2 separate regions of the Homo sapiens genome follow, and region 2 is linked to region 1. Evidence: fine-mapped expression QTL. A gene starts in region 1. The other region holds a variant in brackets. All regions are shown on one strand. Distances are between the middles of the regions. Region 1 holds the start of DUSP18 (dual specificity phosphatase 18). Region 2 overlaps OSBP2 (oxysterol binding protein 2).

Region 1 (4,523 bases):
CCCATCTCTACTAAAAATACAAAAATTAGCCGGGTGTAGTGGTGAGCACCTGTAATCCCAGCTAATCAGGAGGCTAAGGCAGGAGAATCACTGGAACCCAGGAGGCAGAGGTTGCAGTGAGCCAAGACTGTGCCACTGCACTCGGGCCTGGGCCACAGAGCTAGACTCTGTCTCAAAAAAAAAATTGTTCATATTTTCTTTCTAAAATGCGGAAACAAAATCTACAGTATGGAAGCAATTGAATAAATTTTGGTATGTCATAAAATAAAATACATGTAATTGTGTATGAAACATAGACGGGTGGTATATTAGATGGGAGAAAAAAGCAGGTTACTAAAAAGTGAACTTTTGTGATGTATCTTTTTTAAGTATAAGCATGTTGTAACATATATATATATATATATATATATATATATGAATGGATTCTGATCAAAATACACCAAAATGTTAACAGTGATTGTCCCTAGCCACTTATGCTGCTGGCCTGTCTTGTCTTCTTTTTATTTCTTCGAGACGGGGTCTCACTCTGTCCCCCAGGTTGGAGAGTAGTGGCACAATCTCAGCTCACTGCAACCTCCACATCCCAGGCTCAAGTGATCCTCCCACCTCAGCCTCCTGAGTAACTGGGACCACAGGTGAGCCACCAAGCCCGGCTAATTTTTTGTATTTTTGGTAGAGATGGGGTTTCACCCTGTTGCCCAGGCTGGTCTCGAACTCCTGAGCTCAGGTGATCCAACTGCCTCAGCGTTTCAAAGTGAAGTGGTGGGAATACAAGCGTGAGCCACCATGCCTGTCCTCATTTTTCTATAAGTGTACACTACTTTTATAATTGGGTCAAAAAAGACAACTGTAGAAGGATAAAAAATATTGAAGGACTAGTTTTTCTAATGCATTTTCAGCCTATTTGGAACTGGAGTGTTGTGAATGTTTTCATATTTACAAACTAGTATGAACAATCCAACTTCTCAATCTCTCATTTACATTTTTCTGACCTCTATGCATAGCCTAGGTGTGAGGTGATGGAAAAAGCTGGTTTAGAGATCAAGATGCTCAAACACAAAAGTCCCCCAAATCCTGAGAGTTTTTTGTTTTTTTAAAAAAATCCTTAAAACATTTAAAGACGCATAAAACTCTTCACCCACTCAGTGGTGCAAAAAATTTACCAATACTAGAAGGGGAGGAGGCTGGCAACGACTGGAAATATTCCCTTTCAAGTAATAAATAATGGTTATTTTGAACCAAATTGCTTTCCACCTCAAGTCCTCCATGGATGGGAGCCTGGAGGATGCAGTGATGGGGGTTATGGAATGGAAAGGAGCGTGGGTAATTGGGTTTGTGAGGATTGGGGCCAGGCAGAGGGAACTGGGGGCTTTTCCAGGACCACTGGGGAACACAGAGGCTGAGAAGGGGAGTGTGGGATGGGTTCGAGCTGGGGAGGACCTCGGCCTCGCCAGGCTCTAAGGAGAGTCACAGCTCACCACCTAGGGCGCTGGGACCACACGATGTCATGCCTGGGAGACTGAAGGGCTAGGACAGATTCTGAGAAAATGTGGACTGGAGATGGGGATTCCAGGTTCTCCCGGGAGTCCAGGCGAGGGAGTTCCGGCTTCAGGGAGTCCCAAGAGCTAGACTGGGAAGGGGCTGGTGCCCAGGACTATGAGAAATCCAGACTCCCCTGGGGTGTGAAAAAGGGCCGAGGTCCGGCTGAGGGAGAGCGAGTCTGAAAGAGTTCGGGCTCCCTTGCGGGTCCGAGAGTCTAACGAAGGCTCTGGGCACCCAGGCCGCACCTGAAGAGCACCAACGACTGCTCGGTCCGCGGCGCGGGAAGGAGATGTGCGGCTGAACCCCTACGCCGATTACTTAGCGGCGGCCCTATCGAGAGGGTGGTTCGAGCCCGAGGTGGCGCCGGTCCCGTAAATCGTGGAGGATCTCAGGTCCCCTGTGACCAAGGGCGTAGTCAGCTGTGTCATGGCGGCTTCCCTGTTCGAGAAACAGTTGGAAACTGGAGGCCGGTTGGGAGTCATGGTCGTTGGGCGCACGGAGGCCGGTTGGAAGCCATGGTCGTTGGGCGCCAGGAGGCCGGTTGAGAGCCGTGCTCGTTGGACGCGCGCAGACCTGGAGTTAGTCCCTGGGCGGAACCTGGAGCCCCGCGCGGCGCGTTGCCTGGGAGACGCATAAGGGGGCGGGGCCGGGGAGGGAGTGTCGCACATGCGCACAGAGCCCGGGCGGCTACGGAAGCGGTGAGACTGTCTCTCGGCTGCAGCCCTGGTGCGACCCGGCCCGTTGCCGTAGAGATGGGCAGGGCTGGATGGAGTGGGGTGCGGTGAGCTGAGCTGACCCTGCTTCGCCACGGGGACTGCAGTGACCCCGGCTTGCCGGCAGGGCGGGTAACAGGTTGAGCCAGGGTGGGGCTGCTCAGGGGCGTGGAGCCGAGGCCAGGATTTCTCTGAAGACCCGGCACAGGCTATTCCTTTCTGCGACGAGCCCATTGCTATGGAAACCAAAGCGTTAGGCCAGCGGGGATTGAGGCTGCGGGATCATGACGGGTCTCTCTCCCGAAGAACCTTGCCTAAGGCTTCCCCAAGCGGCTACTTCCTGAGCGAACCCGCCCACCCGCCTGAAGGAGAGAGGTAAAACCCTGGGGGTCCTGACACTAAGCAGGCGAAGAAGCCTATTCCAATGCCAGCTCCCCTAGGAAACCTACCCGGCCCACCCCTAGAAGTGATGCTTCGCTCTCGTTAACTCTTGGACTTTGTTCCATGTTTATAACTTAGTATTTCACGAACGCCCCGCGGTGTTTGTTCATTTTTCCCACACATAATGGACCATAAAGGTCGGCTTCTTTGCTTTATGACTCGTTCTGAACAAGTCCTTTTCCGCGCTGTGTCTCACTTTCCTCTTTTGTAAAATGGAAATATTAACTCTAGACGCCGGTCTGATTAGGTTGCTTTGAAGATCGAACCAGATGAGGGAAGCCAAATACTTCATAGGCTGTAAAGTGGTGAAGCTGAACTGCTACCGAGTTGCTATTTTTTTCTCCTCCTCCCTCTCAAGCTAAACGTTCTTTAGATCTTTTGTGATTTCTTCAGGTGGTCTTTGCGACTCCCTAGGCTCCGACCTGGAAGAAATCTTTTTTACACTTCCCTTTCACAGAGCCCTGCATTTTAACTTCCCTATCAGAAGCGAGAAAAATAGTTATCATTTTGAGAGGGCTTACTCTATGCCAAGCCCTGAGAAAACTCTTTACGTGGATTATCTCGTTTAATTTCACAACATCCTTTTAAGGTAGGTACTGTTATCCTATTTTCAAGCTCTGTCTGCCTGTAATTGCCTGTTTACTATCTGTTTCTCCCACTAGTCTTTGAGCTCCCTGAGAAAAGGGGCCATGCCTGTCTTGTACATTTCAGTATCTCCAACACCTAATACAGTGCCTGATAGAGATTGCTTTTTTTTTTTTTTTTTTTTTTTTTGAGATGGAGTCTCACGCTGTCTCCCAGGCTGGAGTGCAGTGGCACGATCTTGGCTCACTGCAGCCTCCGCCTCCCGGGTTCAAGCAATTCTCCCGTCTCAGCCTCCTGAGTAGCTGGGACTACAGGCCCATGCCACCACGCCTGGCTAATTTTTGTATTTTTAGTAGAGACGGGGGTTTCACCATGTTGGTCAGGCTGGTCTTGAACTCCTGACCTCAGGTGATCTGCCCGCCTCGGCCTTCCAAAGTGCTGGGATTATAGGCTTAAGCCACCGTGCCCAGCCCTGATAGATATTTCTTAACTAGCATGAAAATGACTCCTCGCATCACTACCCTCACCTGCAAGAGCATTGTCACTTCTGCAGACTTTTAGTGGCTATAATGAACAGCACATTCCTCTATTCCCGTTACCCACTGGGCACTGGTTTGGGGGGACATCAGTTCACTTCTCTATGGATTTTCTGATGACGAGGATCCAGAACATTCCTTAGCATTTAGACTTCCATCTGGGTTCAGGAGGCTTTTTCTTTGCCCTTCATATCACCTCTGTAGCAAGCCAGCCCTCTCTGTCCTTCCGGGAATGAGCCTGATGCATTTGAGTCTGGGGCATTGGCAGGTAGGATTTGCCTATACAACCTTTGGTCTTTCTCTTTAGTAGCCTCAGAACCACCCCCATCCCCACCCAGCCCCTCCCTGGAATTCTGGAGACACGCTGCCAGAGAACTCATTCTTTCCAGAAAACCTCTCAGAAGGCAGAGTCATAGCTGTTGGGAGTCATTTCTTCATTCAACAAATATTTATCAAGCACCTACTTGTGGGGACACAGCGCTTGGCACTAGTTGGTGATAGAGTGGGAGTGAAGACAGACACCATCATATCCCTAAAGGGCTCACAGTCTCTTGGGGAGACAGACATTAATCAAATAATCAGACAGATCGGAGCAAAACTACGTCTTCAGTAAGTGTTAGGAAGGAGAGAACATAGGGCTAAGAAAGCCTGGAGCAGAGTTGGTCAAACGTGAGGGAGGGGTGTGATCTAAGGAGATTTCCCTTAA
Region 2 (4,000 bases), 49 kb before region 1:
TCAAGGTTAAGAACACTCTAATCCCGTCTCTAGAAGGCAAAGGCTCAGTAAGCTGACAGATAAATTCAAACTCAGAAGAACTGCAGGATTCAAAAGAAGAAAATTGCTTCCATGCCTGTATCTAGCAAAATAATTTTATTTTCTGAAAATAAAAAATTCAAAGAAGGTGCCTTTCTTGTCACAGTGCATGAACAACTCAGCAAAAAGTCCCCACTCAGTCTGCCCGCAAGGCTCCCAAGTCTGAGAACCAGAACACACCATCAGCCCTGTTCCCATGCTGCCCCAGGGCTCAGGAGCAAGGGCCCAGGCCATTTCTGCAACAAATCTGTTAGTACTGGCAGGGGGAAAAAAAAGGGGGAGACAAGCACCCGGATGTTGTCACTGCAACTCCGAAGTTGTAAAGTTGCAACTCCAACAGCAGTGCCCAGGGCCTGTGGCCCCAGGGGCAGGAAGGCCAGTGAACACCTGAGGCCCAGCTAAAGCATCCCCCATTCTTTCCCTACCAGGTCAGTCACCAGATTCCTGGCCTCCTGGACTCAGATCTCCAAGCCATTAAGTCAACAGACATTTCCCGAGTCCTTTGATGTGCCAAGCCCAGTGCCAAGCATACAGGTCATCTTTTATATCTCATCTCTCCTCCTCCTCCTTCCAGATGGTTTCCCATCAAATTTTCAGAAAGGTAAGGATAGAAAGAACCCCAGACATCACCTAGCCTAGTCCTCTCACTCTATAGATAAAGAGGCTAAAGGATGTGATCGTTAGAAGGGAGGTTAGAGGCTGTGACAGACTGAAGCATTTCTCCTGTTTCTTTCTGCCATCCCTGAACTACAATTTTAAGTGCACAACTTTTGCCACTGGACTTTGTAGGATCCTCTAAAATGGGGAATGGATATCTTCCCACCCTACTGATATTGGACAGGGCCACATGCCTTGATTCAGCCAATGGAATGTGGAATGGAGTGAGGGTGTGCAGGCTCAAGCTGGGATGCTGTGACTCTCGATTACCCTCCTGTACTTCTGCCATCACAACAGGAAGACACACCTCCTAGCTTACTCCCAAGTGCCACTGCCTGAAGGAGACCTGGCCTGGTCATCTGCGGACCCTCAAGCAAGAGAAAACCACTGCTGCTTTAACCTCAGAGTTTAAATCACCACTGGGCAATGTGTTTTGAAGTTGCTTGATCCAGGAGGACAGGTGAGCTGAGGACTCGATTCTAACTCCCGCCCACCCTCGCCTGTCAGAATGCACACACAACCCATTGTCACTGAGGTGTCAGAGTAGAGCAAGGGATCAGCAGGAGATGATGATGCTGGAGAGGCAGAGATGAGGCCAGTCCTGAGGGGGAGTCATGTTGGCACATATTTGAGATGAATAGAAGATGAATAAGGAGACTCTAAGTGTCAAAATAAGAGTCTCAACCAGCAATCTTTGTCATCAACCTAAGGATCTGCTTTTGACTTCCATCTGCTTTCTTACAGGCTATGGCAATCATTCTTTTTGTAAGTACAGGGCTTTATAGCTAGTGAGCAAAGCCTAGAGATGTGAGAAGGGACTCTAGAGGTCCACTTTCCTGGATGTAACTTCCCATCTGGTCCTGGATGGCACAGCTGCAGCTGGACAGTAAAACATGTGTCATTTCCCCTTAGTGTAGG[C/T]GTTTTTCAAAAGGCCTTGATTTTTTCCCTGTGTCAAATGATCTTTGGCAAGGATGCCAAGATGACTCAGTGGGGGAAAGGACAGTCTCTTCAACAAATGATGTTGAAAAAACTGGATGTCCTTGTGCAAAAGAATGAAGTTAGACCCTTATCTCACACCATATGCAAAAATTAACTCAAAATGGATTAAAGACCCAGCAAGGTGCAGTGGCTCTTGCCTATAATCCCAGCTACTTGGGAGGCTGAGGTAGGAGAATCACTTGAGGCCAGGAGTTCAAGATCAGCCTGAGCAACATAGCGAGACCCTGTCTCTACACACACACACACACACACACACACACACACACACACACACAAAAACAGTAAAATTAAAACAAAATAGATTTAAATGCCTAAATGTAACATCTGTACAACTCCTAGAGAAAACCATAGGCATAAAGTTTCATGACATTGGATTTGGCAATGATTTCTTGGATATGACACCAAAAGCACAGGCAACAAAAGCAAAAACAGACAAATGGGACTCCATCGAAGGACACAACTTAAGTTCCTTGAAGGACACAATCAACAAAGTAAAAAGGAAACTTATGGAATAGGAGAAAATATTTGCTAATCATATATCTGACAGTGGGTTAATGTCTAGAATGTAAGAAGAACTTCTACAACTCAACAACAAAAATCAAATAAATGATTAAAAAATGAGCAAAGGGGCTAGGCATGGTGGCTCACACCTGTAATCCCAGCATTTTGGGAAGCTGAGGCGGGCAGATCACTTGAGGTCAGGAGTTCGAGACCAGCCTGGCCAACATGGTGAAATCCCATCTCTACAAAAATACAAAAAATTAGCCAGGCGTGGTGGTGGGCACCTGTAATCCCAGCTACTCAGAAGGCTGAGGCAGGAGAATTGCTTGAACCTGGGAGGCGGAGGTTGCAGTGAGCCGAGATTGAGCCATTGCACTCCAGCCCGGGCAACCATGTGAGACTCTGTCTCAAAAAAACAAAAAACAAAACAAAACAAAAAAACAAACAAACAAAAAAAGGATTTGAACAGACATTTCTCTAAAGATGTTATACAAACGATCAACAAGCATATGAAAAGATGCTCAGCCAGGTGTGGTGGCTTATGCCTGTAGTCCCAGCACTTTGGGAGGCTGAAACAGGCAGATCACCTGAGGTCAGGAGTTCAAGACCAGCCTGGCCAACATGGCAAAACCCCATCTCTACTAAAAGTACAAAAATTAGCTGGGTGTGGTGGCAGGCACCTGTAATCACAGCTACTCAGGAGGCTGAGGCAGAAGAATCACTTGAACCCAGGAGGTGGAGGTTGCAGTGAGCCGAGACCATGCCATTGCACTCCAGCCTGGGCGACAAGAGCGAGATTCTGTCTCAAAAAAAAAAAAAAGAAAGAAAGAAAGAAAGAAAAGATGCTTGTGGTTGGGCATGGTGGCACAGGCCTGTAATCCCGATACTTCGGGAGGCTGAGGTGGGATACTTTGGGAGGCTGAGGTGGGAGGATCACTTGAGCCCAGGAATTCGAGACCAGCTTGGATAACACTGCAAGATCCTGTGTTAAAAAAAAAAAAAAAAAAAGGTTAGGTGTGGTGGCTCATGCTTATAATCCCAGCACTTTGGGAGGCCAAGGTGGGAAGGTCGCCTGCGGTCAGGAGTTCAAGACCAGCCTGGCCAACATGTTGAAACCCCGTCTCTACTAAAAACACAAAAAATTAACTGGACATGGTGGCAGGCACCTGTAATCAATCACAGCTACCTGGGAGGCTGAGGCAGGAGAATCGCTTGAACCCAGGAGGCAGAGGTTGCAGTGAGCCGAGATGGCGCCATTGCACTCCAGCCTGGGCAACAAGAGTGAAACTCCACCTCAAAAAAAAAAAAAAATCTAAAAATTAGCCATGTGTGGTGGTGTGCACACCTGTATTCCCAGCTACTCAGGAGGCTGAGGTGGGAGGATCACTTGAGCCCCAGAGGTTGGGGCTGCAGTGAGCCATGATCATGCCACTACACTCCAGCCTGGACAATGAAGCAAGACTCTGTCCCCTCCTCCCTGGCCAAAAAAAAAAAAAGAGAGAGAGAGATGCTCATCACTTATCATCACAGAAATGCAAATCAAAACCACAATAGATACCATCTCACATCCATTAGGATGGCTACTATCAAAAACAAAACAAAACAAAAACAGAAAATAAATCATTGGCAAGGACGTAGAGAAACTGGAACCTTTAAGAAACATTGTTGGGCCAAGCACAGTAGCCCATGCCTGTAATCTCAGCACTTTGGGAGGATGAGGAGAGAGGATTCCTTGAGCCCAGGAGTTCCAGGCTAACCTGAGCAA

The links. PIP is the estimated chance that this variant, and not a neighbour inherited with it, causes the effect.
Region 2: its variant is fine-mapped to the expression of DUSP18 in fibroblasts (GTEx, PIP above 0.99).

The regions. Positions count from the first base shown.
Region 1 is chr22:30,665,569-30,670,091 of GRCh38, reverse strand. DUSP18 (dual specificity phosphatase 18) reads left to right here and starts at 2,217. Exons shown (of 2, transcript NM_152511.5): 1 at 2,217-2,630. It also overlaps a transcript of SLC35E4 not described here. RefSeq lists an enhancer at 1,730-2,119.
Region 2 is chr22:30,715,100-30,719,099 of GRCh38, reverse strand. The region is part of intron 1 of OSBP2 (oxysterol binding protein 2); the gene reads right to left. Among named protein-coding and RNA genes, the nearest start is that of MIR3200, 14 kb to the left of the region's middle. RefSeq lists an enhancer at 1,053-2,252. The variant C/T (reference allele first, on the strand shown) is at 1,654.